Homo sapiens: one gene and its partners. The protein of the gene in region 5 purifies or fractionates together with the protein of the main gene of each other region. This does not show direct contact. Each region holds a gene or a part of one and is shown on either strand. Other genes may lie near its edges.

What was found.
Region 1: the proteins of TULP2 (region 5) and MYO5C purify together in Homo sapiens (affinity purification with mass spectrometry; 2 studies listed by BioGRID and IntAct, with this or other methods). This does not show direct contact.
Region 2: the proteins of TULP2 (region 5) and AMER1 purify together in Homo sapiens (affinity purification with mass spectrometry; 2 studies listed by BioGRID and IntAct, with this or other methods). This does not show direct contact.
Region 3: the proteins of TULP2 (region 5) and WDR35 purify together in Homo sapiens (affinity purification with mass spectrometry; 2 studies listed by BioGRID and IntAct, with this or other methods). This does not show direct contact.
Region 4: the proteins of TULP2 (region 5) and ESPL1 purify together in Homo sapiens (affinity purification with mass spectrometry; 2 studies listed by BioGRID and IntAct, with this or other methods). This does not show direct contact.
Region 6: the proteins of TULP2 (region 5) and POLA2 purify together in Homo sapiens (affinity purification with mass spectrometry; 2 studies listed by BioGRID and IntAct, with this or other methods). This does not show direct contact.
Region 7: the proteins of TULP2 (region 5) and IFT122 purify together in Homo sapiens (co-immunoprecipitation; 3 studies listed by BioGRID and IntAct, with this or other methods). This does not show direct contact.

The regions. Positions count from the first base shown.
Region 1 is NC_000015.10:52,246,863-52,250,899, forward strand, and holds part of MYO5C (unconventional myosin-Vc), read right to left. Parts: intron 1,922-4,037; coding exon 1,838-1,921; intron 731-1,837; coding exon 596-730; intron 153-595; coding exon 55-152; intron 1-54. UniProt on the Homo sapiens protein: May be involved in transferrin trafficking. Likely to power actin-based membrane trafficking in many physiologically crucial tissues.
Region 2 is NC_000023.11:64,195,551-64,199,587, forward strand, and holds part of AMER1 (APC membrane recruitment protein 1), read right to left. Parts: intron 1-4,037. UniProt on the Homo sapiens protein: Regulator of the canonical Wnt signaling pathway.
Region 3 is NC_000002.12:19,972,796-19,976,832, reverse strand, and holds part of WDR35 (WD repeat-containing protein 35), read left to right. Parts: intron 1-1,169; coding exon 1,170-1,303; intron 1,304-2,199; coding exon 2,200-2,365; intron 2,366-3,124; coding exon 3,125-3,270; intron 3,271-4,037. UniProt on the Homo sapiens protein: As a component of the IFT complex A (IFT-A), a complex required for retrograde ciliary transport and entry into cilia of G protein-coupled receptors (GPCRs), it is involved in ciliogenesis and ciliary protein trafficking.
Region 4 is NC_000012.12:53,284,959-53,288,995, reverse strand, and holds part of ESPL1 (separin), read right to left. Parts: intron 3,073-4,037; coding exon 2,084-3,072; intron 1,025-2,083; coding exon 655-1,024; intron 459-654; coding exon 297-458; intron 1-296. UniProt on the Homo sapiens protein: Caspase-like protease, which plays a central role in the chromosome segregation by cleaving the SCC1/RAD21 subunit of the cohesin complex at the onset of anaphase. During most of the cell cycle, it is inactivated by different mechanisms.
Region 5 is NC_000019.10:48,888,524-48,892,560, reverse strand, and holds part of TULP2 (tubby-related protein 2), read left to right. Parts: intron 1-2,929; coding exon 2,930-3,051; intron 3,052-4,037.
Region 6 is NC_000011.10:65,295,851-65,299,499, forward strand, and holds the end of POLA2 (DNA polymerase alpha subunit B), read left to right. Parts: intron 1-13; coding exon 14-140; intron 141-1,269; coding exon 1,270-1,419; 3' UTR 1,420-1,821; coding exon of another isoform or gene 1,822-1,863; 3' UTR 1,864-2,835; downstream 2,836-3,649. UniProt on the Homo sapiens protein: Accessory subunit of the DNA polymerase alpha complex (also known as the alpha DNA polymerase-primase complex) which plays an essential role in the initiation of DNA synthesis.
Region 7 is NC_000003.12:129,516,610-129,520,646, forward strand, and holds the end of IFT122 (intraflagellar transport protein 122 homolog), read left to right. Parts: intron 1-859; coding exon 860-985; intron 986-2,497; coding exon 2,498-2,577; intron 2,578-2,958; coding exon 2,959-3,123; intron 3,124-3,566; coding exon 3,567-3,656; 3' UTR 3,657-3,898; downstream 3,899-4,037. UniProt on the Homo sapiens protein: As a component of the IFT complex A (IFT-A), a complex required for retrograde ciliary transport and entry into cilia of G protein-coupled receptors (GPCRs), it is required in ciliogenesis and ciliary protein trafficking.

The DNA of each region.
Region 1 (4,037 bases), on a different chromosome or scaffold from region 5:
ATGGCAGAAACTGCCTTCCCACGTCTTCGCTGTGTGTTGCATAAGAACACTTACTCAAAGGGTAACTTCTCATCATTTGGCTTGATGCATCGAACGTAGTGGGGCGTCGTCGCATTGAGGGTCTCCATGAGCAAGTACAGAGAGCTGCGGAACTAGGAAACAAAGCTAGAGATCAAACATGGCTCTGAAATAATTTACTGCTTACATCACGGTAAAAAGCAGCCCAACCTTGTTAAGTTACTCAATAGGAAGAAAAGTTAACCTCATGCATAAACACCTATTATGAAAGGTTTCAGTCCGTGACTGTGGTTTATCAGCATGTCCTACTGTTGTGGACAGAACACTAATACTCCCAGACAGCAGAGAACTGAATAAACCATGTTATTGTGCAAGAGCGTGGTTTGCTCCAGTGCGTGCTGCCTTGGAGGTGGAAGTATGACGACGATGAACTTTTTGCAGTGGAGTCCATGTTAGATTGGAAGAGCCCCAGCGTCTGTCCATGTCCAGGCCTGGAATGCGGGTCCTCTGAGTGCCCTGGCTCCCCAGGGCCTGGCCCTGCCTTTAGACCCCTCACTCTCAAACACCTTCTCAGTACCTTGCTCCCAACTGTGGTCCGGAAATGCTTGCTGTTTGGCTTGATGACTTGCTTTGCAGATTTAACTGTAATCATTGAACCAAAAGGAGAAGGAGGAGTTGGATTTTCTTGAAAAAAGTTGGCACAGAGATGAAACTGGAAGGAACAGAGAGGATCTCAATGTCCAAAAGCAACTGCCCACAGTACTCACTCATACAAGCCACGTAAATGGTGACAACAACTCAGCTAAACTAGTGGGCGGTGAACAACCTCACCAACATCTACAGCCAAATCTCAATTCCACAAGACGATCGTCTTTCATAGGGATGGCCCGTGACTTCTTTCCCGAGAAGGGGAACAGAGAAGAAAAGTGTGTAAATGTCTGTATGTGGGTATCACTCTAAGTGTCAGAAAGTGGAAACATCTACTATTCTCACCTCCGTGCCTGGCTCACACTGTGTCTCCACCTGCAATCTCCTCCCTCCTACTCCACATTCTCATCCCTGCAGATCCAAACCCTACCCAGGAATCTCTTAAAATGTTTTCCAGCCCCACCCACTTCGCAATGAATGAATTAATCCCAACTTCTCTGAACCGTCTTCATCTTGTATTTGTACCTCATTTAAAGCACTTACTACCTTCTGCTTTGTATCAGTTATTTCTTTAAATGTCTTATCTTCTCTCAGAGTGAATTTCATATTTTGTTTTGTTTTGTTTTGTTTTGAGACAGGGTCTTGCTCTGCTGCCCAGAAGAAGAGTGCAGTGGCGCAATCATGGCTCACTGCAGCCTCTATCTCCCAGGGCCAAGCAGTCTTCCCCACCTCAGCCTCCCAAGTAGCTGGGACTACAGGCATGTCACCATTCCCTGCTAATGTTTTTTTATATTTTTAGAAGAGACAGGGTCTTGCTTTTTTGGCCAGGCTGGTCTCAAACTTCTGGCCTCAAGCAATCCACCCGCCTCTGCCTCCCAAAATGCGGGGATTACAGGCGTGAGCCACCACGTCTGGCTGGAATTGTGATTCTTCAATGGTTCTATTAGCTGTCCTTCCTGTCATCTGCATGTTTGATTTCTGATTTTGCATATAGTAGAGATTTACAGTAGTTATCTTTTTGAATCTGTGAGCTACAACTTACCACTGTCCAGAGAGTTCACACACACACACACACACACTCTCTCTCTCTCTCTCCTTACTCTTTCCTTATATACATCTAGATCCATGTCAATTATATAATAACTTTAGTTACCCCTAGGACTTTACAGACCTTGCTTGCTCTCAGGATTTCAACCAGCATGTCATAGACGGTGTCTCTGTTTTTCTCCAGGAAACCTTCACATTTATACTCTACCTATACAGAGAAAGCAATTAATTATTCCCAAAGAGGCCAAAGAATATAGCCTCTAAGCACAAGTTTCATCTCTTTTTTAAGAAAGATTAATAAAAAAGGCTACAGAGGCAATCTTACAAAAAGACGTCTGGCTTCTGTGCATCATGGCAGCAGCCCCATTATGTATAAGCTGGGAATGTGTCTTCTCTCCCACCACCTGGGTTTCTCACCTGCCTGCTGATCACTCTGCACTCACCTGTTGGCTCCCTCTGGCCACAGGGGTCCAGTTGCTCCCTGCGGTATGTGCAGTTCCTACAAGAACACCTGACTTAGGTCTCCCTTTGCCTTTGAAGCCACCAGGAGGAGGAAAAAGCTTAGTGGTGTTCATTGGGTTCAAACAGACATCGTTTCCTAAATCAACATTAATGTGGTAGAAAGGATAGAAAAACCGACCAGCTGACCACCAAGCCTTCAAGAGCCACCAAGCCCTCAGAATCAGGTTTAGAGTGGGTCAACCTTTGCACTGCTTGAATCTAGCTTAGAAAAACTCTCCATGCTGCCCTTTCTGATGAAGAAGGCTTCTCGAATGCCTCAAACCATGGCATATCCAGGGTGGCTGCTTCAACATTCAACCTCCCCCTAGTTTATGCCTCTGGATTGCATATCTTAATATGTGATAATTTATTTTTCATAAATTAAAAACGTATATTAAAATTAATTTTAAAAATTGACAATGAGGAAACAGGGGAGAGTGCTGGAATCCGTAAGCAGAGGGTTCCCTGGGCATGGCCTCTGCTTTGTCCCCCAGGTAAGGAAGTATCCTTGCCGGTAGGTAGGTTAAGATCCAGGAACACCGGCTGTTTGCAAACACTTCTTTGTGAATGAAGTACCTGGATTGTTGTACAAATTCTTCCAGAATGGTGGTGTGAGCCACTAGGACAGATAGACAAAGGTGGCAAATACAGAGCTTTCCTGGTCTGGGCGAGCATCTGTGGGGACAGTGTCACATGCAGCTGGTGCCTCTGTTGGGGACTCTGGGACCAAAGGAAGATGTGCTGAGCTGCTACATCTAAGCTCAGCTGACTTGCATTCAATACGACCTGATTTCCCTGGCCAATGAGATTGAAAACCTAATCTAACCCCATAGTGCATGTGGGTTCTTCCCACCAATCAATCCATAGTCCAGCCCAAACGCTGCCTAGTTCTTTTAAGGGAGACTTCTTGGAAGTGGCAGGTGAGAGAATTACATGTCCAGAAACTACATCCTATAAAGAGAGACCCTTGAAAGAAATCCCATATGTGCTTTTTATGGAGTCTGGTCTTTCCCCCTCCCTTTTCCTATGGGACCAGAACCCTGAAATTATGACAATAGCTAGGAAATATAATTTGACATATGATCATTTCATTTCATAGGCATCTTTTCAGGAGCCCATCTGAAAAAGTCTAAGCACTAAAAACTTATCTTTTTTTTTTCTTTTTCTTTTTCTTTTTTTTTTTTGAGACAGGGTCTCACTCTGTCAGCCAGGCTGGAGTGCAGTGGCGTGATCTTGGCTCAATGCAACCTCCGCCTCCCAGGTTCCAGCAATTTTCCTGCCTCAGCCACCTGAGTAGCTGGGATTACAGGTGCGTGCCACCACGCCTGGCTTATTTTTGTATTTTTTAGTAAAGATGGGGTTTCGCCATGTTGGCCAGGCTGGTCTCAAACTCCTGGTCTCAAGCGATCCACCCGCCTCAGCCTCCCAAAGTGCTGGGATTACAGGTGTGAGCCACTGCACCCGGCCAATCCTATATTTTAATATTTTACAGTACTCTGCTAGCACACAAAGGTGATCACAGCTTTCCAGGTTGCTGTCCCCTCCCTCCACCATCAGTCACTCGGGAATGACCAGCTCTGACTCACAGCACCGGCCTCTGCGATAAACATAGACAAGCACAAGCCATTCCTGTGAGCCCTGGCACTGGGCTAGGCCACCAAGGCAACACCCAACCAGGACATGGGAGGAGGTAGGAGCTCCCTTAAGGAAGGAAAACAAATAAGAATGTACATTTAGGGCAGGTGGTTATGGCAATTTTTTCCTTCTGTTTTCTAAGCTTTCTATAATGTGATTTTAACAAAAATTTTTCATTTTAGACAAGT
Region 2 (4,037 bases), on a different chromosome or scaffold from region 5:
CTTCTGTCAGATCAGCAGAGGCATTAGATTCTCATAGGAGCGTGAACCCTATTGCAAACTGCGCATGCGAAGGATCTAGGGTGCACTCTCCTTATGAGAATCTAACAAATGCCTGATGATCTGAGATGGAACACTTTTATCCCAAAACCTTCCTCCTCTCCATCCATGGAAAAATTGTCTTCCATGAAACAGGTCCCTGGTTCCAAAAAGGTTGGGAACCGCTGCCTTAAAGAATAGCCCCTGTTATTTCTAAAGCTGGTTGGTGGAGTATCATTCTTTATACCTTGTAAACATATTCCAAGATAAATGTGAAAGGGAGAAAGACACTTCTTGGGCAGTAAGGCTGGGCCTCAAGGAAAACCTCACAGCCAAGTGAAAAACTCTAGGACCTACACATCCTTGTGAATCAAAGGCTGACTTGTCCTGCTGGGTTTGGGGCTGGAGTTCCTGGGAACAGAGTGATTTGGCAAATTGAATCACAAAGAAGGCTGCTTTCCAGAGCCTTGACGCCCCAGTTAGAAGACAGTCTCTTTGGGCTTTCCCTTGCCCTTGCTCCTATGCTCTGTGAGGGTAGAGGCCAGCCCACTCACCTCTCTCTGTATTGTCCCCTTTCCTGTCACAGGGAGCTGCAGTGTGTTGTGGAAGGAGCCATGGACCACAGGGCTGGGGTCCAGGCCATGTCAGCCTCCCATCTGCCAAGGGACCCTGAATGGGCCAGTGTAGCCTGCTGAGACGCAGGTACTTGTGAGCTATTTTGAGATCAAAACAGCTCCTCTACCTATCCTTCTACCTGCCCACTCCAACTACAGTGGTGTGATGAGTTGATGTGATAATAGGCACAAAAAAAGCACTTTATAAACTGTATAGTACAGTGCAAATGAGAAAGACTGTCATTACAGTTATTATTACTCCTTCCAGGTCAGATCCCAGTTTCTTAGGAAGCAACTGACCATGTGTTAAAGGCTGTTCATTTGGGAAAGCCATTCACTGTGGGAAGCTCAGGGACTTGCTGCCTTGGCCCATGCTGAGAGGGAGACAGATATGAGGGGATTTTAAAAAGGTGTGTATATCTATACAAACTCCTCTGCTAAGAGGTTTGAAAAGCCCTCTCTGTGTGTTGTGGGAGACAGATGAATTACGCAGGGTGTCCCTGGGATGGAGTTTCTCTCCGTCCAGTTCAGGCCCTTCTCCTAACCAAGTCCAGAGTCATCTTTGCTGGCAGATACCAGCCTTAAACTGGTACTCTGTGTTCTCTCTCCCAGAGCCATGTCCCCCCACAGTCATTCACAGTATCTCTGCCTATGTCACCCAGAACACTGGGAAGGAAGGTGGCAGGGTCACCCATAGCTGGTAGCTCCCTAGCGTAGCCCCACCTAGCTACCTCTGCCTTAGGCCTCTTCTCCATACTCTTTGCTATCCAACCAGGTGCCAAAGCTATCCTTCCTCAATGGGTTATGCTGCCTTTACTTAGGACCACAAGAGTTCACCAAGAGAGTGAGGTGGGGCAGAAAGCAAAGGAGACAGCAAAGGACAGACTCTGCAGATCCCCTAGGCTGGGACTGGCTTTCCCTGGGGGTCCTGTCAAGAAAGTGGCACTGCCAAATGCAGGGCCCCACAACCCTCATGTTCCTTAACCAGTGTGGCTGAGTTTCAGGTGGGCTGGGGGTTAAGAGAACCCTCCCAAGCCACTCTGTGGTCCCTTGCAGGGACTGCCTGCTGCAGCAGCTGCTATCATGGCAGAAAGCAGGCTGTGGTAGAAAGCGCTGGGGCCATTCCAGCTCCCTGAGCCAGATTCAAGCCATTCTGGGGCCAGTGGAAGGCTGGCTACAAAGGAAGAGCTTCTTCCTTCTCCTCTCCACTTAAAACATAGGCAGGAGGCCAGCCACATACCTGCCCTAGAGACCCTTCTCAAGGAGAAGGGACAGCTGCAATATGAGCCTTGCACATTCTGCTCCAAATCAGCTTCCCGGGGCCAGCATGGCCAACTTGAAGAGGGCTGAATTGGGGGAAGAAAAAGAAGCAAGTGGATTTATGCAGTAGCTCCAGAGACATGGCCTTGACCAGCCATAGTTCCTCAGGCCTGTTCCAAACAGTCTTCCTGAAAGCAAGCCCACTTCAGGCCCACCTGCCCTTCTGTATGTTGGGGAGGGTTGGTTAAAGAAAAAATGGTGAGGATGGCCCTCCAGAGAGCTGGCCATTTCAGCGCTGGAATCAACTCTGCCCAGCTAGGGGAAATCCAGCAAGTTTTTTCCCATGTTTATGCCTCAATTTCCTTAACTGTAAAATGAGGTCATTGAGAGTGCCTACCTCTTAAGGCTATTGTAAGAAGTAAAACCAATGCACATAATGTACCAAATCAAGTGCATTACATAGCAGAAGCTAAAAACATTATAGTAACCAACTTTTATTCATATTTTATTCAAACTGTGGTAGAACAATTTCTAGAAGTAAAATCATCTCAGTCAGGTTGAGTAGGGTGCTCCCTAGGGCTCTGTGGGTAAGTCACCAAACCTCCTTGGGGCTCAGTTTTCCCAAATGGCAAATGGTAAATGAAGATAACTGTGTGGTCATGTCATAGGAGGCTTTACTTGCTCATTTAGCCAACTTTTGATATTCAGGGACCTAAAAGAGTCAGCTACTGGCTAGCAGCCAAGGATTATCTGGGACTTTCAACTAGCCAGGTTCTCTAGCCCAGGTCAAACTCAGCTAAAAGTACCAACATCAAAGGAAATGCAAATCAACAGATATCCTTCACCCTCAGGGTATTTACCACTTTATAAAGCACTCCCTACTCCCATACCCCCCCATTTGCCCTCCTCAGCCACCCATTACTCAGGCCTGGTGGGGGATGGCAACTCCTTGTCACAGAGAAGGAAACTGTGCCTAGACTTGGGAAAAGACTTGTCCAAGGTCACATAGTGAAATGGTGACAGAGCCACACTAGCTCCCAGAACTGTTGAGTCTCAATTTCATGCCATTCTGCTGCACTGTGCAGGCCACCAATCAAAGGAGGAAGACTGAGCAAGAGAACTGCAAAGTTTACCCTCACACCAGCAAGAACTATAATCTCCCAATCCCATCCCACCTCTGTCCCAGCCCTGCTAAGCCTTCTTTGCCACATTTCCAGTCCTCACTGGTTGCCACTGTTTGGGTCCTACCAAACACATTCCAGGAAGCCTGCTGACATCAGAATCTAGGGGCCAACAACCCAGCCTGTGGCTGCTCTCCTCATCAGCAACCCTACCACCACTCCTCTCAAACTACAGGACATGTCACTCTACTCCCCTTTTCCTTAAGAGATAGGTTTGAGTGGCCCAAAAACGAGAAACCTGCCAACGTGGACAAAGATGCAGAATTTGAGCTATTTGAAGAAAATGACTTATCAGATGATCTGGAACTTGAATGATCCATTTTTAACACCCATAGCCAAGTACTGCCCTCAAAACTATTTGGTCAGAGCCTAAAGGAAGGGCTGCTTGGCTTGGTTGGCTGATGGAGTTGTAGATGCAGCTGGCAGAGCCCCTTCAGCTCCTCCCCTAATTTGCAGCCTTCCTGCTGAGGGGCACCTCCTGCCCAGAGGGCATCTCACCAACTCCAGATGCAGCAAGACCCCAAATTGGGACTTCTCTCTCCTGTCCCAATTCCCCCACCAGCCCCTCTCAACTGATTTGTTTACATACTGAGCTTTGTATAATTCATCCTGACGGGCTTTGGTCTGTTCATTCATCTCTCTCAAATTGACCCTCCTTCATCTTACAGTCACTACAACTAGCACACAGCAGGAGCTCAAACAATGCTGATTCAACTGAATTCTAATTCACCTGAAGTTTCTTGGTGCGGAACTGGAATGCCAGCCTCACCTTCTATAGGCTGTGTGGTTTGAGAAAGTGGCCTAACCTCTCTGACACTCAAATGCCTTATCTGTAAAATGAAGAAAATGCTATCTACCATGCAGGATTGTGGTAAGGATTAGAGATGATCAATGTAAAAGCAAACTGGTAACTACATACTAAGCAGATATTCAATAAAGGGCTCTT
Region 3 (4,037 bases), on a different chromosome or scaffold from region 5:
AAAAAAAAAAATCAGCAACATTTAAGGGATAGGCAGAAGAAGGATGTCGAGAAATATAAGAGTCTTAGAGATAAAGGAGTATATGGGCTAATGGCAGCCAAGAGAGTTCAAGAAGGAGGGAGTGGTAAAAAAAAAAAAAAAAAAGTATCAATTGGCTTTAGCAACAGGCCATCAGTGACGTCCATGAAGGCAGTTTCTTTCTTTTTTTTAAACAACAGAAATTTATTTTCTCAGAGTTCTAGACTCTAGAAGTCCAAGATCAAGATGTCAACAGGTTTGGTTTCTTCTTTTTTTATTTATTATTTTTATAGATTTAGAGGGTACAAGTGCAGGTTTGTTATATGGATATATTGAATATTGGTGAGGTCTGGACTATTAGTATATAACCATAACCCAAATAGTGTATGTTGTAGGCAGTTTCAATGGAGTTGTGGGGCAGAAGCCAGATTGGGAGGGGTTAAGGGTTGAGTGGCAGTTGAAGTGGAGACTATAGGTGTGAAGAACTCTTTCATGAAGTTTGGTTGGGAAAGGAATGGTAGAAATAGTAGTTAGAGGGGGAACTTGGGGTTAATAAAAGTGTTTATTTTATTTAGGGTGATGGTTTCAAAGAGAAATAGATCTGCATGTGTTTAAATCCACATAAGAAAGGCCCTGGAGTGAAGAGTTTAATGAGAAAGAGAAAATGAGAGTAGTCGATAAAGGGAGATCTTTGCAAAGGTAGGAAGGGATTAGATCAGAGAATACATAGAGGAATTAGCCTTGGATAGGGGACTGACTGGGGAAATACCTCTTCTTTTGTATTAGTGGGCAACGCAGAAAGTGTAAGCATGGACTCAGTTATGTTCTGAATTGTTGAAGATGGGAATGAGGAATTTGTTTTTTGGGTGCTTTTATTTTCTTTCCAAAATAGAAGATGGGCTCAACTGCTAATTGGGAGTGAGATCCAGCATCAGAGTTTAGAAGAAAGGGGAGAAAGGTTGAAACAGCTGCTATTTCAGATGTCTTTTCAGGCACATATAGGTGCTCAGTAAATATTTATTGGCCAAATAAATTGAATGAATGCATGAATGCTGTGAAGAATTTGTGAGATCTTTAGAAAAACAAAGATTTCGAAAGCCGTTGTTGGAGGATCATGACCTTGAACAACTTTTAATAATGTTTTGTTTTAGGCAATCGTATTTGGGGAAAAGACCTGAAGGGTATACAGCTATCCCATGTAACATGGTCTGCGGACAGTAAAGTCTTACTTTTTGGAATGGCAAATGGGGAAATACACATTTACGATAATCAAGGAAATTTTATGGTAAGTAAGTGTATGCATCAGTCTTGTTTATACAATTTTATATGATTATCGTACATATCATTCATGTTTGTATATACATTTATTTTTTATGGCGGTTTGTGTAATTAAAGTCTTCAATTCAGATTTTTTTTCTTTTTCCCAATCGTCTAAATTTTGTTTTAATTAAATAAAATTTTGGTTTTCTCAAGGCAAATTAGTGCAACAAGTTCGAGTGTAGCTTTTAGTTCCAATTTTTTTTGGTAGGTAGAAAGGACGAGGTGTCAGTGCATTTAAGCAGAGAGATAATGAGTAGGGCGATGTGCAGTTTAAGTTTTATAGGTGTCTTCTGGTGTCTGAAGCCAAAGTTTACATGTAGATACCACAGGGTATTTTTGTAGCAAGCTACCAATGGTTGTTTGTAAAAAGAATGACAGACTTAAATGGTAAGTGAGAAAAATCAATCCCTGGAAAGAAGGTAAAATAGAATAGGATCAGGCAGCATAATCTGGAGAAAAATTCTGGCTTTGCAAGGTTTAGCTATCATAGATGTATGATTACTGGTGGGGCAGTTTTGTTTTTTAGCAAGGGTTAGGACATTAAGTAAATCCACTCACTGGTGGAAGTAAAATAATGAACTTTTATGTCATTTTGCTGTTTTCAAAGTACTTTTATATACTTGTTGTTTGAGTCTCATAAAAACTCAGTGTTTTTTAATCCTCATTTTTTACATGTGGGGAAAATGGACATTTAGGTGATTTGTCCATGGCCTGTATACCAGTAAGTGATTAAGCTTTAATTTGCCACCTGATTTTTAGACTGTATTTTTCAGTGTTCTTTCTACAATACTCTATTGAGTATTGTCTCTATACTGCTGTGTTTTAAAATGTAAAATATTAAACCTAACCAATTTTATTTAGATAAAAATGAAACTGAGTTGTTTGGTGAATGTCACTGGAGCTATCAGCATTGCTGGAATTCATTGGTACCATGGCACAGAAGGCTACGTGGAGCCTGATTGCCCTTGCCTTGCTGTTTGCTTTGATAATGGAAGATGCCAAATAATGAGACATGAGAATGACCAAAGTAAGGAATTTTTCTGTTTAAAAAATTTTTTTAATTTCTATTTTTTTTTTTTTCTTTTTGAGATGGAGTCTCACTCTGTCGCCCAGGCTGGAGTGCAGTGGCACGATCTTGGCTCACGGCAACTTCTGCCTCCCGGGTTCAAGCGAATTTCCTGCCTCAGCCTCCCGAGTAGCTGGGACTACAGGGCGTGCCACTATGCCTGGCTAATTTTTTATATTTTTCGTAGAGACGGGGTTTCACCCTGTTAGCCAGGATAGTCTCTATCTCCTGACCTCGTGATCCACCTGCCTCAGCCTCCCAAAGTGCTGGGATTACAGGCGTGAGCCACTGTGCCCGGCCTCAATTTCTAATTTTTAACTTTTTTTTTTTTGCGACAGGGTCTTGCTCTGTTGCCGAGGCTGGAGTGCAGTGGTGCGTTCTTGGCTCACTGCAGCCTTGGCCTCCCAGGCTCAAGGTCTCAGCCTCCTGAGGAGCTGGGACCACAGGTGTGCACCAACTCCTCCAGCTAATTTTTGTATTTTTCGTAGAGACAGGGTTTCACCATGTTGCCCAGGCCGATCTTGAACTCCTGGACTCAAGTGATCCGCCCGCCTCAGCCTCCTAAAGTGTTGGGATTATAGGCGTGAGCCGTTGTACCCAGCCCTGTTTTTTTAAAAATGTGGAAAGTTTTAAAAATGTTTAAAAGTTGTTCTTAAGATTATAAAGTTCTCTAGGCTACGTATTTTCCCACAGTGACCTCATTTTTCTCTTTCTGACTAGATCCCGTTTTGATTGACACTGGCATGTACGTAGTAGGCATCCAGTGGAACCACATGGGCAGCGTGTTAGCTGTGGCAGGCTTCCAGAAGGCAGCCATGCAGGACAAAGATGTGAACATTGTGCAGTTTTACACTCCGTTTGGTGAGGTAAATGCATTCAAATTGATCTTCTTTCTTTCTATTTAAATGTGCAGTGAGTAAGGTAGAGGAAAAAATAACAAAGGAAACGGTGTAAACTTATCACATTTTCTTTTAGGGACATTTCATCTTCATAGTATAAATCTTTGTTGTATTTTATCATGGAATTTTATAATCTTATAGTTTTATAATTATAAAATAAAAATTACAATTTTATACATTCAGAAAACCAGAAGTTTAACATAAGAAATCACCATGGAGTAGTTATTTTGAATATTTTCTCTGTGATCTGAATATGTGTCTCTTTTCATAGCCAGCTTTTGAGTAGTATTTAGTATAATATAGTTGTTTCAGATTAATTTTTCTGATTTTTAATGTGATATTTTAAATGTGTTTAGATGTTAAACATACATATCTGTCTGTCCTTCCTTCAAACTTCTAATACTTTTAATTTGTTGCAAAGTAATCAGTTATTTGAAGAAAATTTAATAATTAATCTTAGGTGATGCTACATTAAAATAAAAGCATTGTTTTCATAAATGTACATATGAGTATTATCCTTCTCAATAGTATTTTTAATAAATTTAATTTTAAAAGAATTTTCAGAAGTAGCATTGGAAAATGTCAAGTAGGAGAATTAATATATTGTGAATTTTAAAGAATTTAGAAAGTGAGAGCTTATTAATAACTAAGCTTAATACGTTTTTTGAATGTCTTATTTTCTAACCCAGTACTATATTTTGTCCCTTTTGAATACCCTGTTGGCTTTTATAAAT
Region 4 (4,037 bases), on a different chromosome or scaffold from region 5:
ACATGGCAAACAGCAACTACCATTTATGAAGGGCAATGTGCCAAGTGGGGTGCCATGCAACTAACAGGCATCAACTTATTCCACCATGCTCCCTAAACCCCATTTTTACAGAAGGAATAGAAGCTTGGAGAGGTTAAGTGACCTGCACACAGCTCATAGACAGAGTGCTGGGGTTCAAACACAGGTTCAGAGGCTACTGGATCCAGATCCGAACCCAGCCTGGAAAGACAGAGGGGTCAAAAGCCCTAGAGGCTCAGCCCTCTCCAAGTGACCAACATCAGGGGTCGCATATTCACCAGTGGCTACGGGGGCTGAGGGGAGCCGGAGCCGAGGACCAAGGTCCTTGTCACTCTCCTTGTCTGGGCATGGGCTGGGCAGCTTCTTCTTGCTGGAATCCAGCCTCAGCAGCTCCCATTCTCCAGAAGCTGCCTCAGGGCCCGGAGCTGGAGTCTTCCCACCTGGGGAGAGAGCAGGCCTTTTTCACAGTGCTCCCTCCCCCTGCCATTCTCTTTGTTCTTCCTTCTGTAATCCACTCCCTTAGAGTCAGCAAAAGAACATTCTTCCTGTACTTCCTTGGCAGCACTTACTGCTTGTGCTTTGCCCCAGAACAAACCCCCAAAACATGCACCTTCCACCTCACCCTTGCTGTCCTACCTGAGGCTGAGTCTTCCCCGTCAGAGCCCCTGAGGATCTCAAAGCTCATTTTTCTCCAGTTGTCAGTCAGTTCTTCCTCAGGGATGGTCCTCATGATCTCAGGGCCAGGCCTGGCCTGGTCACTGGCCCTCTGGGGACGCCGCTCCTCACAATGTCTTGATGCCACCTTCTTGGCCCTCCGGCTCCTGCCATTCAGGCCAGGGTTCCCAGGGGCACTACCTGGGGCAACCACGGCATCCGTCTTTAGGCTCAGGCCCTTCCTTGCTCGCCCCCGGCCCCGGGAAGCAGTGCCCCGTCTCTTAGGCTCCTCTGCCAGCCAGGCCTCAGCTGAGACAGGGTCTTCCAAGTCACTGTCATCACTGAAGTTCACCTGAGATCAGAGTGAAAGGGTGAAGGGCTAAGAGGTCTTCAGTGACAAGACACCTTGTGACAGCAGGTGGCGTAGTGGAGGCACCATCAGGCACCATCACACAGGACCCTGGAAGATTTCAGAACTAACTTCTCACATGACAGCCAACACTCTAGATCAGGGGCAGCGACTCTTGGGTGTGGAAGGAGGGAGAAAATGAGGGAACAGAAGGTGGGATGAAAAGGTAAAAGAAACATTAGAGTTAAGGAAAATGTCTCTGTCTGAAACAAAGGGAGACTTGGAAATAGGTCTTGCTGTGAAAGATGTTGGCCTGGCACAGTGGCTCACGTCTGTAATCCCAGCACTTTGGGAGGCTGAGGCAGGCGGATCACCTGAGGTCAGGAGTTTGAGACCAGCCTGGCCATCATGGTAAAACCCCGTCTTTACTAAAAATACATAAATAAGCTGGGTGTGGTGGCACCCGCCTGTAATCCCAGCTACTCGGGAGGCTGAGGCAAAATTGCTTGAACCCGGGAGGTGGAGGTTGCAGTAAGCCGAGATCGCACCATTGTACTCCAGCCTGGGCGACAGAGTGAGAGTCCGTCTCAAAAAAAAAAAGAGGCTGAGCATGGTGGCTCACGCCGGTAATCCCCAGCACTTTGGGAGGCCGAGGCGGGTGGATCACGAAGTCAGGAGATCAAGACCATCCTGGTTAACACAGTGAAACCCCGTCTCTACTGAAAATACAAAAAATTAGCTGGGCATGGTGGCAGGCGCTTGTAGTCCCAGCTACTCGGGAAGCTGAGGCAGGAGAATGGCGTGAACCCAAGAGGCGGAGCTTGCAGTGAGCTGAGATTGCGCCACTGCACTCCAGCCTGGGCGACAGAGCGAGACTCCTTCTCAAAAAAACAACAAAAAACAAAAAAGCAAGATATTGGGGTACTGCAGATAGCAGGAGATTAAAGTTCCACTAGGCCCTGGGGAGCTATTCCACAGGGACACCTGCTCTATAAAACACTCTCCTCCAGGACTAACCCCATCCAACACCATCACCACCACCTAGCAACAGTCCCACCTCACCTTGAGGCGCGTCTGGACTCTCTGTTGTACCCTGGGGGCCTGGGGTACTTCAGGCTTGCTCTCTGTAGGGCAGACTTCCTCAAACACCGTGAAGGGGACATGAGGGCCAGCTTGCCTGATCCGGTCTGGGGGTTTAGGTGTGCAGGGCAGTCCTCTACCTTCCAGACCTTTCTGAGAGGTATTATTGAGGCGCAGGGGAGCAGAGGCTAACTTTTGGCGCCCTCGTCCAGAACGTTTTTGGCCCTGAGTCTTAGAGGGCTCTGAGCCAGGGACACTTTTTATTAATGGTGGCTGCCAGCCCCAGGAGCTTGCAAAAAGTTGGGTAGTACAGCAGCTGAGGCCACCTAGTTTTGTGAGGGCCCAAATCAAGAGCAGGCTGGCTCGCCAGGGCTCTAGGTGGGGTATCCGTGCTGCTACAAACTTCAGCCCTGACTGTAGAACCTTCTGCAGGCTCTCGTTTGATGGCTGGTTCAGGCCCTCCAGTGCCAACAGTGTGTATGCTTGAGCCAAGATCTCATCCAAGAGGCTTGGAACCAAGGAGGGGGGTGTTTTATGATTCAGGGAAGCTTGGAGAGCTTGGGTGAGGCGCTCAGCGGCTTCAGGACAGCCCTTCAGCACGACCTGCAGCAGATCCAGACCCTGGGCTTGGTGGCCCATGGCCAGCCTCACCCCTGCCGTGACCAATACCCAGCGCAGACAGACTGCTGTGAGGACAGGGCTGGCGCAGAGCGAGCAGTCACAGGTGGGTGAATGGGACAGGAAGTTGGGTATGGGCTGGGGCTTGGTTTTCAAGACTGGGGAGGAGTTTGTAGAAGGTGCTATGGGGCCAGGCTCCTTGGCCACAGTGGCCACCAGCTCTAGAGCAGGGCCTCTTAGGAAGAGCTCCTCCTCTGGGAGCTGTGGAGGACAGGGGACCTGGGCCTGCTGCTTCCCCTTCTGCAGGTGGACCTTCTTCACAGAGTCCAGGTGCTGAGTCACCCCACCAAACTCTGGGGAGAAGGCAGAACAAGAATTACAAAACGGGGAGAAATGGCATCAAGCACTTCCTGAGCGACCTTGGGGCCCAATTCTCTAATATATGTGTTTTATATACGTACGTGTATATATATGTGTGTATATATATGTATTACTGTATAACATATCAAATATTAGTATGGCTTATTATTTTTTAGGTAAAATCTTTTTCTTTTTTTCTTTTTTTTTTGAGATGGAGTCTCTCTCTGTCGCCCAGGCTGGAGTGCAGTGGCACAATCTCAGCTCACTGCAAGCTCCGCCTCCCGGGTTCATGCCATTCTCCTGCCTCAGCCTCCCGAGTAGCTGGGACTACAGGCGCCCACCACCACGCCCGGCTAATTTTTTGTATTTTTTAGTGGAGACGGGGTTTCACCGTGTTAGCCAGAATGGTCTCGATCTCCTGACCTTGTGATCCGCCCGCCTTGGAGGTAAAATTTTTGTTTTCTTTCCAACCAACAATGGATCAAATGCAGGCCACAAAGCCCCCACACCTGCAGCTCAGGGGCCACATGGCTGAGAAAAGCAGGCTGGCCCCAGCAGGCCCACACCTGAATCCTGCCTCCTACCCTGTGATGCTGGCCCCAAACATAGACTTCTCAACTTTCTCATTTAACAAATGAAAATAATCTATGCTCCCACTCAGCTTTATGAGGTCTAGTGTGGGGCAAATGAAGTACTAGAAGTATATGTGATTGGGGAGACAAAATGTGCCATCAATGCAATGTTTTATTATTAGCTTCAGCCCTCCTGAGGATATGTTTGTGCTACTCAATACGGTAGCCACTAGCCATGTGGCTATTGAGCACATGAAGTGTGGCTAGTGTGACTGAGGACTGAATTCTAAATATTATCTTTCTTTCTTTCTTTCTTCTTTTTTTTTTTTTTTTTGAGTCAGAGTCTCGCACTGTCACCCGGGCTGGAGTGCAATGGTGCAATCTTC
Region 5 (4,037 bases):
CTGCACTCCAGCCTGGGTGACAGAGCAAGACTCCGTCCCCCCCCCAAAAAAAAAAAGAAAAACTGTTCTGCTTTGAGATGCTGTTAATCTGCAACTCTTGTCCCAACCCTGTGCTCACAGAAACATGTGTTATATTGACTCAAGTTTTAAGGGATTTAGGGCTGGGCAGGATGTGCTTTGGTAAAAATGGTTTTGCAGGCAGTATGCTTTGTGAAAGTCATTGCCATTCTCCATTCTCTATTAACCAGAAACATAACACACTGTGGAAGGCTGCAGGGACCCCTGCCCAAGGAAGCCTGGGCATTGTCCAGGATTTCCCCGACTGAGACAGCCTGAGATATGGCCTCGTGGGAAGGGAAAGACCTGACGGTCCCCCAGCCCGACACCCGTAAAGGGTCTGTGCTGAGGAGGATTAGTGAGAGAGAAAGGCCTCCATGCGGTTAAGATAAGAAGGAGGCATCTGTCTCCTGCACGTCTCTGGAAATGGAATGACTCAGTGTAAAACCGACCATACATTCTATTCTGAGATAGGAGAAAACCACCTTATGGCTGGAGGCGAGACATCATGGCGGCAATACTGCTCTTTACTGCACTGGGATGTTTATGTAAAGTTAAACATAAATCCAGCCTATGTGCACATCCAGGCACAGCACCTTTCCTTAAACTTATTTATGACACAGAGTCTTTTGTTCACATGTTTTCCTGCTGACCCTCTCCCCACCATCACCCTATAGTCACACCAAATTCCCCTCACCAAGATAGTAAAGATAGTGATCAATAAATACTGAGGGAACTCAGAGATCAGCGCTGGTGCGGGTCCTCACTTGCGGAGCACTGGTCCCCTGGGCCCACTTTTCTTCCTCTATACTTTGTCTCTGTGTCTTCTTTCTTCTCTCAGCCGCTCGTCTCCACCTTGCGAGAAATACCCACGGGTGTGGAGGGGCAGGCCCCCTTCAGGCTGGAGCGCAGTGGCACGATCTCGGCTCACTGCAACCTCTGCCTGGCTGGGTTTAAGCGATTCTCCTGCCTCAGCCTCCTGAGTAGCTGGAACTGCAGGTGCACGCTGCCACGCCCTGCTAATTTTTGTATTTTTAGTAGAGACCGGTTTCACTATGTTGGCCAGGCTGATTTTGAACTACTGACCTCGTGATCCGCCCACCTCCGCCTCCCAAAGTGCTGGGATTACAGGCATGAGCCACCGCCCCTGGCCCACCTAACAAATTTTTTTTTTTTTTTTGAGACGGAGTCTCGCCCTGTTGCCCAGGCTGGAGTGCAGTGGCACAATCTCGGCTCACTGCAAGCTCCGCCTCCCGGGTTCACACCATTCTCCTGCCTCAGCCTCCCAAGTAGCTGGGACTACAGGCGCCGGCCACCACACCCGGCTAATTTTTTTTTTTTTTTTGTATTTTTAGTAGAGACGGGGTTTCACCATGTTTGCCAGGATGGTCTCGATCTCCTGACCTCGTGATCCGCCCGCCTCGGCCTCCCAAAGTGCTGGGATTACAGGCGTGAGCCACCGTGCCCGGCCATAAAATTTTAAGGTTCATCCGTGTGGTAGTATTATCAGTACTTCATTCCTTTTTATTCCCTTATAATATTCCATTGTGGTGACGTTTCCTTTTATTTTCATGAGATGGCCAATGATTTCAATGACAGAATTATTATCACCCCAAACTCCATCCCCCCATCTTCAGTCTCTGTGATGCTTTGTCTGAGATAAGGAAAAGGAAAGACCCTAACCCCTCCCTGTCCTTAGATCCAGGGTAATCAGAAACTCTGGCCCTTGTAGACTTCCGTGCACCTGGAGGAGGAGGAGGTTGTTGCAAGTGAGGGCGCTGAGTCATGAGTAGGGACTGAGAACCCAGGAGTTCTGGCCATCTCTGGCTAGCACTGATGATGGTGTCCCACACTCCTGGGATCCAGCTGTCCTGAGCTTAGTCCAGGCTTCTTTCATCCTTTAGGTGAAGGGGTGGGTTGCCCCTCCACACCTGTGGGTTCGTTAGGTGGAACGAGAGACTTGGAAAAGAAAAAGACACAGAGACAAAGTATAGAGAAAGAAATAAGGGGACCCAGGGAACCAGCGTTCAGCATATGGAGGATCCCGCCAGCCTCTGAGTTCCCTTAGTATTTATTGATCATTTGTGGGTGTTTCTCCGAGAGGGGGATGTGTCAGGGTCACAAGACAATAGTGGGGAGAGGGTCAGCAGACAAACACGTGAACAAAGGTCTTTGCATCATAGACAAGGTAAAGAATCAAGTGCTGTGCTTTTAGATATGCATACACATAAACATCTCAATGCTTTACAAAGCAGTATTGCTGCCCGCATGTCCCACCTCCAGCCCGAAGGCGGTTTTTCCCTATCTCAGTAGATGGAACGTACAATCGGGTTTTATACCGAGACATTCCATTGCCCAGGGACGGGCAGGAGACAGATGCCTTCCTCTTGTCTCAACTGCAAGAGGCATGCCTTCCTCTTATACTAATCCTCCTCAGCACAGACCCTTTACGGGTGTCGGGCTGGGGGACGGTCAGGTCTTTCCCTTCCCACGAGGCCATATTTCAGACTATCACATGGGGAGAAATCTTGGACAATACCTGGCTTTCCTAGGCAGAGGTCCCTGCGCCCTTCCGCGGTGTTTGTGTCCCTGGGTACTTGAGATTAGGGAGTGGTGATGACTCTTTAGGAGCATGCTGCCTTCAAGCATCTGTTTAACAAAGCACATCTTGCACCGCCCTTAATCCATTTAACCCTGAGTGGACACAGCACATGTTTCAGAGAGCACGGGGTTGGGGGTAAGGTTATAGATTAACAGCATCCCAAGGCAGAAGAATTTGTCTTAGTACAGAACAAAATGGAGTCTCCTATGTCTACTTCTTTCTACACAGACACAGTAACAATCTGATCTCTCTTGCTTTTCCCCACATTAGGGACCCGTGCAGAGGGTGAGAGTGACTCCCAGGATATGGGAGATGCACACAAGTCACCCAATATGGGACCAAACCCTGGAATGGATGGTGACTGTGTATATGAAAACTTGGCCTTCCAAAAGGTAGGAAAATGCACAATCACTCAGGATATTGGAAGAAGAGGGCTAGCCTCGGACCTCTGGTGAGGGTGGGGCTAAAATTCTGCCACCCAATCAGAAGCTCTTTTTCCTGGTGGTGATTAAGCTGGCAGAGACTTGTGTGTGTGCGTGCGTGCGTGCGTGCGTGCATGTGTGTGTGTGTACCATTCATCAAATCAGAGGATTTGACTTGACATGGACATGGCCATTAAAATACAGCTTATGGTATGGTGGCTCACGCCTGTAATCCCAGCACTTTGGGAGGCTGAGGTGGGCAGATCACTTGAGGTCAGGAGTTCGTGACCAGCCTGGCCAACGTGGTGAAACCCTGTCTCTAGTAAAATACAAAAATTAGCCAGGTGTGGTGGCGCACGCCAGTAATCCCAACTACTCAGGAGGCTGAGGCAGGAGAATCACTTGAACCTGGGAGGCGGAGGTTGCAGTGAGCTGAGATTGCACTCCAGCCCGGGAGACAGAGTGAGACTGTCCAAAAAAAAAAAAAAATAGGTGCAGCCATGGAAAGACAGCGAGCTTCAGAAAGGGCAGAACACTGATCGAAAAGGGCCAGTTGCAGGCCAGGAACGGTGACTCACGCCTGTAATCCCAGCACTTTGGAAGGCCGAGGCAGGCAGATCACCTGAGGTCAGGAGTTCCAGACCAGCTTGGCCAACTTGGTGAAGCCCCGTCTCTACTAAAAATACAAAAATTAGCTGGGCGTGGTGGCGAAAGCCTGTAATCCTAGCTACTTGGGAGGCTGAGGCAGGAGAATTGCTTGAACCTGGGAGGCAGAGGTTGCAGTGAACCGAGATCGAGTCACTGCACTCCAGCCTGGGCGACAGAGCGAAACTCTGTCTTAAAAAATAAAAGAAAAGGGCCAACTGGCACTCACTTTGGTGTTGGTGAAAGTGCAGTAGATGGTTTCTCTTGAGGGTAGATCTGGGCTGTATTATGTTATCTAGATCAAACTAACA
Region 6 (3,649 bases), on a different chromosome or scaffold from region 5:
TCTGTCTCTGTAGCTACTACCCACTCTACCCGCCCCAAGAAGACATGGCCATTGACTATGAGTCGTTCTATGTTTACGCACAGCTGCCTGTCACCCCAGATGTCCTCATCATCCCGTCAGAGCTGAGGTACTTCGTGAAGGTAGGTTTGAACTCTGCTTTTTCCCAGAAACACCAGAACCCAGTCTTTGACTTTCCCTTCTAGACCACCCGGCACTCACCCCTCATGGGTCAGCTGATGGGGATGGGGCCTCTAGCACCCTGCCCTGTGGCCTTGTTTCTTTGGGGAGGTGGTGGGACCAGAAAACAAACAACTCTGTCAGTAAAATGCTTGAGTAAACAGTGTCCTCTCCTCCCTCCCCAAGAGAACGAGAGCCCAGATGACTAGGAAGGCCCTCAAATGAGGGCTTTCACCAGGCCACATAGAGGTGACCTGGGGAAGATTTCATATGTACACTTGCCTGTCCTCTGCCTCCCAAATTCTGATATGACCTCCAAGTGGGCTCAGCTGGGAATACCTTGAAGAAGCTATTGGGTCATTTTGATCTCTGCCACCCTTTAGCCCTGCCTGCCTTGGAGTTAGGTCCCTTACAAGGAATCTGCCTAGACCAGTCCCCCTCTTGCCAAACAAGAGTTAGTTCAATCTCAAGAGGTTAAAAAAAAGTTTTTCACATGAGAAAGCAGTAAACAGCTAGATCAGGTTTGTCTCCAAGTTTAGGAGCTGATTGTCATTCTGCCAAGTCACCTCATTCTTCTGTTTGAAAGACTTAAAAGGAATTCAAAGCTTTCTAGTGACAAGTTAACATATGTGACTGAGGCCGGGCGCAGTGGTTGACAATTGTAATCCCAGCACTTTGGGAGGCCGAGGTGGGTGGATCACCTGAGGTCAGGAGTCTGAGACCAGCCTGGCCAACATGGTAAAACCCCATCTCTACTAAAAATACAAAAATTAGCCAGGCATGGTGGTGTGGGTGCCTGTAATCCAAGCTACCTGGGAGCCTGAGGCAGGAGAATCGCTGGAACCCGGGAGGTCGAGGCTGCAGTGAGCTGAGATCTCACCACTGCACTCCAGCCTGGGCAACAGAGCGAGACTCCATCTCAAAAAAAAAAAAAAAAAAAGTGACTGAAAATGTGTCTGGTGATTTGGTTGCCTTCGTTTCCATTTTCTAAAACCCTCTTTGGGGTCCAGCCATGTGATGGCACTTCTTTTTCACATTGGTTCCCAGTTAGTTGAGGCTCTCCAAACCTGTCACCTCTCCTCTCCTCCCCAGGATGTCCTCGGCTGTGTCTGTGTGAACCCTGGGCGCCTTACCAAAGGGCAGGTGGGAGGCACCTTCGCCCGACTCTACCTTAGGAGGCCGGCAGCGGACGGGGCAGAGAGGCAGAGCCCATGCATTGCTGTGCAGGTCGTCAGGATCTGAGGCTTCTGTCCTCTGCTGTTCTCTGCTGTGTGGGCCCTTAAAGTCTTAGCCAAGAGCCAAGACATAGCCCTGTGACAAGGTGAACAGTTGGGTGGGAAAGGAGAGAGGAGCCAGCCAGGGAGGGGCAGCTGCAGTGACCAGGCCCAGCAGGGAGGACTTGTGCAGCCGGGCCTGCCTCTGAGTGGTGCCTCTCCTGGAAGGAAGCTCTTGCTTCTCAGTCCATGCTCCGTGTCCAGAAGTAAGCCAGCTGTGGATCCCGCCCACTCAGAAAAGGCGAGAAGGCTTTGTGATTTTCTACATGAATCAAACACAGAAACAACTTTTGGAGAAATTAAATTCTGAGTGTGACTTCTGAGTTTGACCTTTCTTCTATTTTCTTTTATTTATTTATTTTGTTTTTAGACGGAGTCTCGATCTGTCGCCCAGGCTGGAGTGCAGTGGTGAGATCTCGGCTCACTGCAAGCTCTGCCGCCCGGGTTCATGCCATTCTCCTGCCTCAGCCTCCTGAGTAGCTGGGACTACAGGCACCCACCACCACGCCTGGCTAATTTTTTGTATTTTTAGTGGAGATGGGGTTTCACCATGTTAGCCAGGATGGTCTCGATCTCCTGACCTTGTGATCTGTCCGCCTCAGCCTCCCAAAGTGCTGGGATTACAGGCGTGAGCCACCGCGCCCGGCCCCTTTCTTCTATTTTCTTTATCCTGGTAGTAGACAAAGAATGTTGCCTATTTGACCTATGTCCAGAGAAGGCAGAGTGTCAGTCACACTGGGTTTCTATCCAGCCCCAGTCCTGTCCAGTGGGTAACTCTCAGCCCCACTCCTCATCCCCCAAAGGCCCCAGTGACCTCTATGCTGCAGAGGTGCACTGGGTGGGCCCTAGAGCTGGGCTGCAGAGCAAGCAACTGGCTGCATGCCTGGGCCTCCCTGCGCAGTTCCTCACATGCATGCTGTGGTCCCAGCCTGACCTCTCCATCTGGAGGGGGCCGCCTCGCTGGGCTGTTCCAAAGCTGGAGTCCTGGTGGCAGCTGCTTTGCCAAGTCGCGCAGTAGCCAGGGCTTGCCTGCAGCCCAGAACACTCAGACAGGGTCAGGCCTTCCAGGGTTCACAGCACGTCCCATGCCCCTATGTCCTGGCATCTGGGGAAAAGCTGTCACTGGCCAGACGTGGAGTGGCTTCCTGCCCTAAGCTGGCAGGCTGTCCTGCCTCACATGCCAGAGCCAAGACCGGCAAACCCCAGCTGTCAGGGCAGGGAAGTGGGCAAGGGGGCAGCAAGCTGCTGGTGTCTATGCCTTGACTCCGAGATAAATAGATGACCTAACAGTGGCCAACTTTTGCCTCTCACCTTTCTGACGGTGAAATGGAATCGAGCCCCAGACCTGACCAGGGTACAGTAAAAGGTCTTCCTTTAAACACAAGGAGCAGCTGTTTTATTTCATTAGTTTTATAGGCACCTCCTCTGAGGCCAAGAATTAGAAACTCATCCCTGCGTGGGGAGTGGATTTTTCCGTTCTCCCCCAGCTCCTCCACACATGAAGCAGCCAGCTGTGTTCCACGGGGGCACCATGACTTGTCAGCCTCCGGATGTGGAATTTTGGGAGCCCAGGCAATGGTTGCCTGGATACCAGTCGTGTGACTGTTGGAAATGATCTGGGAGGGCCGGGAGGGCCGGAGCAGGCATTTAAGAGTCAGACAAAGAGAAAGCGGGATGCTAACACCAGAGCAGACAGGTCTGGCAGGCGTGCCTCTGCCACCAGACAGTTCCTTTTTGCTCTTGTCAGGAAGGTGCCAAGTGACTGCTGGCTGACCGTCCCTAGACCCCACTTCAGCTGTGTCACCAGTTTCCCCAGGCATCTGTCATCCCAGGTATTCTCAAGCAGGCTCTGGGGGCGTGTCAGTGACGGAGGGTGGGAGGGTGCCCAGGAGGTCAGGCCCGTCTGCCTCAGCCCCCTTTGGTGGCCTCTCCCTGATCTGGTCATGGCCCCTGCCCTTGAGACACCAACTAGACGGTCCTGAAGAAATAGTCCCGAGCTCTTGCCAGGATTTGCCTCCCATGCCCATGCCCTTGCCCTGCCTCTGCCCTGGCAGAAGGAGCCGCCCTCCCTTACCCGCCTCGTGGCTTCCCTTTAGGGTTCCAGTCTCTGAGAGGGAGAGGGAGAGCTGCTGAGGGAACAGAAGCCACTCCTAGTTGCTGTTCCTGGGAACCCAAGTGGGTGCCAAGAATGCAGCGAG
Region 7 (4,037 bases), on a different chromosome or scaffold from region 5:
TGCCCCTGCACACACACACACACACGGAGACTGCCCCTACACACACACACAGAAACTGCCCCTGCACACACACAGATTGCTCCTGCACACACACACACACACACACACACACACACAGAGAGACTGCCCCTGCACACACACACACAGACTGCCCCTGCACACAGACACACAGAGACCGCTCCTGCACACACACAGAGACTGCCCCTGCACACACACACAGAGACTGCCCCTGCACACACACACACACAGAGGCTGCCCCTGCACACACACAGACCGCTCCTGCACACAGACACACAGAGACCGCTCCTGCACACACACGGAGACTGCCCCTGCACACACACAGAGACTGCCCCTACACACACACACACAGACTGCCCCTGCACACACACACACACAGAAACTGCCCCTGCACACACACAGATTGCTCCTGCACACACACACACACACACACAGACTGCCCCTGCACACACACACAGAGACTGCCCCTGCACACAGACACACAGAGACCGCTCCTGCACACACACATGGAGACTGCCCCTGCACACACACGGAGACTGCCTCTGCACACACACAGAGACTGCCCCTACACACACACACAGACTGCCCCTGCACACACACACACACAGAAACTGCCCCTGCACACACACACATTGCTCCTGCACACACACACACACACACACACACACACACACAGAGACTGCTCCTGCACACACATACAGAGACTGCCCCTGCTGCCTCTTCTTGCTTTTGGTGAAGCTGCCAGTGGGTTGAGAAGCAACTCTGTGGTCACCCCACCTGCCTGGCGGCAAGTCCTTTGCAAGGCCTCCAGCCCCCTCAGCCCTTTCTCTATGCCCTCCAGACGTGCTACACCTGGTTGAGTTCTACCTGGAGGAAGGGATCACTGATGAAGAAGCCATCTCCCTCATCGACCTGGAGGTGCTGAGACCCAAGCGGGATGACAGACAGCTAGAGATTGCAAACAACAGTATCCATGCCCTTGGCCAGAGCCTGTGTGTGCGGCTGTGTGAGGGGTCTGGGGACAGGCGGGAAGTAGGAGGGCCCAGTCCCAGGGGATCGCGGGCCATGCTGAGCCTGGCCCTGTGTTCCCAGAGAGATTGGAGAGGCCCACATGGGACAGGGACAGGGATCAGAGATGGGCAGACAGCTGGCCAGGGCCTAAGGACCCAGAAGTGGCAAGTGGCACCTTGGTCTTCCCGTGTGGGTCTCCCACCCTCCCCTGACCCCTAAAAGGCACTGGCTGTGCCTCTGTCTGTGCATAGCTCCTGCATAGCCAACATGGGACATGATGTCATGATGTCGGTGTTGGCCCCCAGCTCTTCCACTCAAGTCACTTTCGCATGCAAGTGACAGAGTCCAAAACTGACAAGCTGAACAAGCAAAGGGTGTGCAAGGAAGCCCCAAGCAGGAGAGGAAGCTTCCTGGCCCAGCGCTCAGTCTGGTCGGTCACAGGCTGGCTCTGCCTCTCTTGGCCGCACTGTCCTCTGGGCAACTTCATTCTTTGGCAGCCCCGTGGTGCCCCCATAACACAGAGATGTCAGGAGCAGTGCCAGCCCCACATCCCCTCAGCCTTATAGCCCCCAGAAACAGCCAGCTTTCCTCTCAGCTGTGGCAGTGAAAGCCCCGGGGCACAGCTCAGCCTGCCCCTTGGCCAGGAGGATGCACCAGGGCAGTTGTCCAGGGCAGGCCACACTTGCAGGCTGGACATGGGAGGGGCTTCTGGCAGGGAACAGCACACACGTGGCCTGAGGCCTCGCTCCCTTGCACTGACTGAGTCTGCAGGCCTGGGGGCTGTAAGCCTGCCTTCCTTGCAGCTCCCAGGTGCTGCCACCCCCAGGGGCCACACTGGGAGGAGGGAAGCTCAGAGAGCTGCTTGCTGAAGGAAAGACGGACCCATCTCTGCCACCCAGGCTCCCTCAGGTGCCACAGATGATATGTGCTATGGTGCTGGCAGGTGGGTGCTGTGCCCACTCCAACTTGGTACCAGCAGTCCCCATGTCCTGGGCCTCCCTGCAGGACCCCTGCTGGCCTCTGTTACCAGCCCCACCACTGTGGGAGAGGGGCGGTTTCCAGGGACCTCCAGGTGAGTCTGACCCGCCCTGGGGTCAGCAGGGACTCTCGCCCCTGTCTGCTCCATCACAAGTGCCCGCAGACCCCCAGCAGCCACTGAATGTTTCTCCAGGATCCCTGGGCCCATCCCCTCCGTGCCTACCCGCAGTGGCTCACAGGGCCCGCATGTGCTTCCCACTGGCCCTGGGAGCTATGGTGTGTGTGGCCTGCGAGGGGAATGGGTGAGGGCAGCAGGGCCAGCAGAGTCCCTTCCTTCTGATTCCTTGGCCTGAGCCCCCTCTGTTCCTCCACCTGGAAAACTCTTCCACTGGTCTGGCTGCCCTTGAGTCTTCTCACAGGGGTGTAGGGTGGAGGCTAGGGTCTGTCTCCATCTCTGCTTCTGATTCCATCCTTGACCAGATCCCTCCAGGCTCCCAGATTCTGCGGCTAGTGGAGACCAAGGACTCCATCGGAGATGAGGACCCGTTCACAGCTAAGCTGAGCTTTGAGGTGAGGGTGCCTCTCTGGGTGACCTGCAGGAGGGCAGCCTCCATCCCTTCTCCTGTGCACATGGGGACCCTCAGCTAGCGCAGTGGTGGAGGAGGATTGGCCAGAACTTCCAGATGTGGTGGCACGAAGGAGGGGCAGGACCCCTTCCTGTGGGGTGTGGGAGCCATGGCTGCCCCCGAGGGACCATGGCCAAGGGCGCAGGTCTGTGGACAGGGAGGCAGCTTCAGCTCTGGTGGGAGGAGCTTGCCACTGTTAGGGTCACCTGGGTTTAGGAAGCAGGTCCTCTCTCACCACTGCCAAAGATTCCAGGATCATAATCCACACAGATGTCTCACTGTGGCTGAGTGAGGACACTGTGCCTCCTTCCCGCCCACCCTGCAGCAAGGTGGCTCAGAGTTCGTGCCAGTGGTGGTGAGCCGGCTGGTGCTGCGCTCCATGAGCCGCCGGGATGTCCTCATCAAGCGATGGCCCCCACCCCTGAGGTGGCAATACTTCCGCTCACTGCTGCCTGACGCCTCCATTACCATGTGCCCCTCCTGCTTCCAGGTAGGTGGCCACCCTGGTAGCTCACATGTGCTTCTCTTGGCCACTTTTCCCTTGCCCAAATGTCCCTCTGGGAGGCGTGGCCCCTGGGAGGAGGGGCACATCCATGGCTCCAAGTTGGGACAGAGGCTTGTCTGTCCTCTCCCCTGCTTGCATTCCATGTGCATCTAAAGTGGACTTCACTGGCCCCTGCGCTGTCCACATCCTCCCCAAATCCTGGGGGCCCAGCAAGCGTGATGTGCCCTTGACCTTCACTCAGAAAACAAGAAACCCCACAGCCCCCTCCCATCTCCCCTTCCAGCCCTCAAACAAAGGTGCTGCAGGTCTGTGTCCAGCCCTGACCACTGCCAAGCCCCCTCCCCTTGAGAGGCAGTGCGTCCTGGCCCCAGGCGTAGGGCTGATGAGCACTAGGGCTTCAGCCTGGTCTTACAGCTGTCTTCCCTTAGATGTTCCATTCTGAGGACTATGAGTTGCTGGTGCTTCAGCATGGCTGCTGCCCCTACTGCCGCAGGTGCAAGGATGACCCTGGCCCATGACCAGCATCCTGGGGACGGCCTGCACCCTCTGCCCGCCTTGGGGTCTGCTGGGCTGTGAAGGAGAATAAAGAGTTAAACTGTCAGAATGTGTTTCTTGCCCAGATGAAGTTTGTGTTTTGTGGGGGGGGCCTTGTGTAACCACGGAATTCCTATTTATGGCATTTCATGCCTTGTAAATAGCACCAGGAGATGAGGAAGAGAATGTACATATATTTTCTAAGGAAAAAAATCTGTTACTTTCAGAACGGCTCCGAGTTGTTCGTGGCAGCCTGCTGGAGTCCGCCGATCTGTCAGACCGTTAGCATGTACATTTTGCCAACAGATTGCCTCAATAATGACAAAAGGGCTCCTTATTTTCATCAGCATCTACATTTTAGCAAA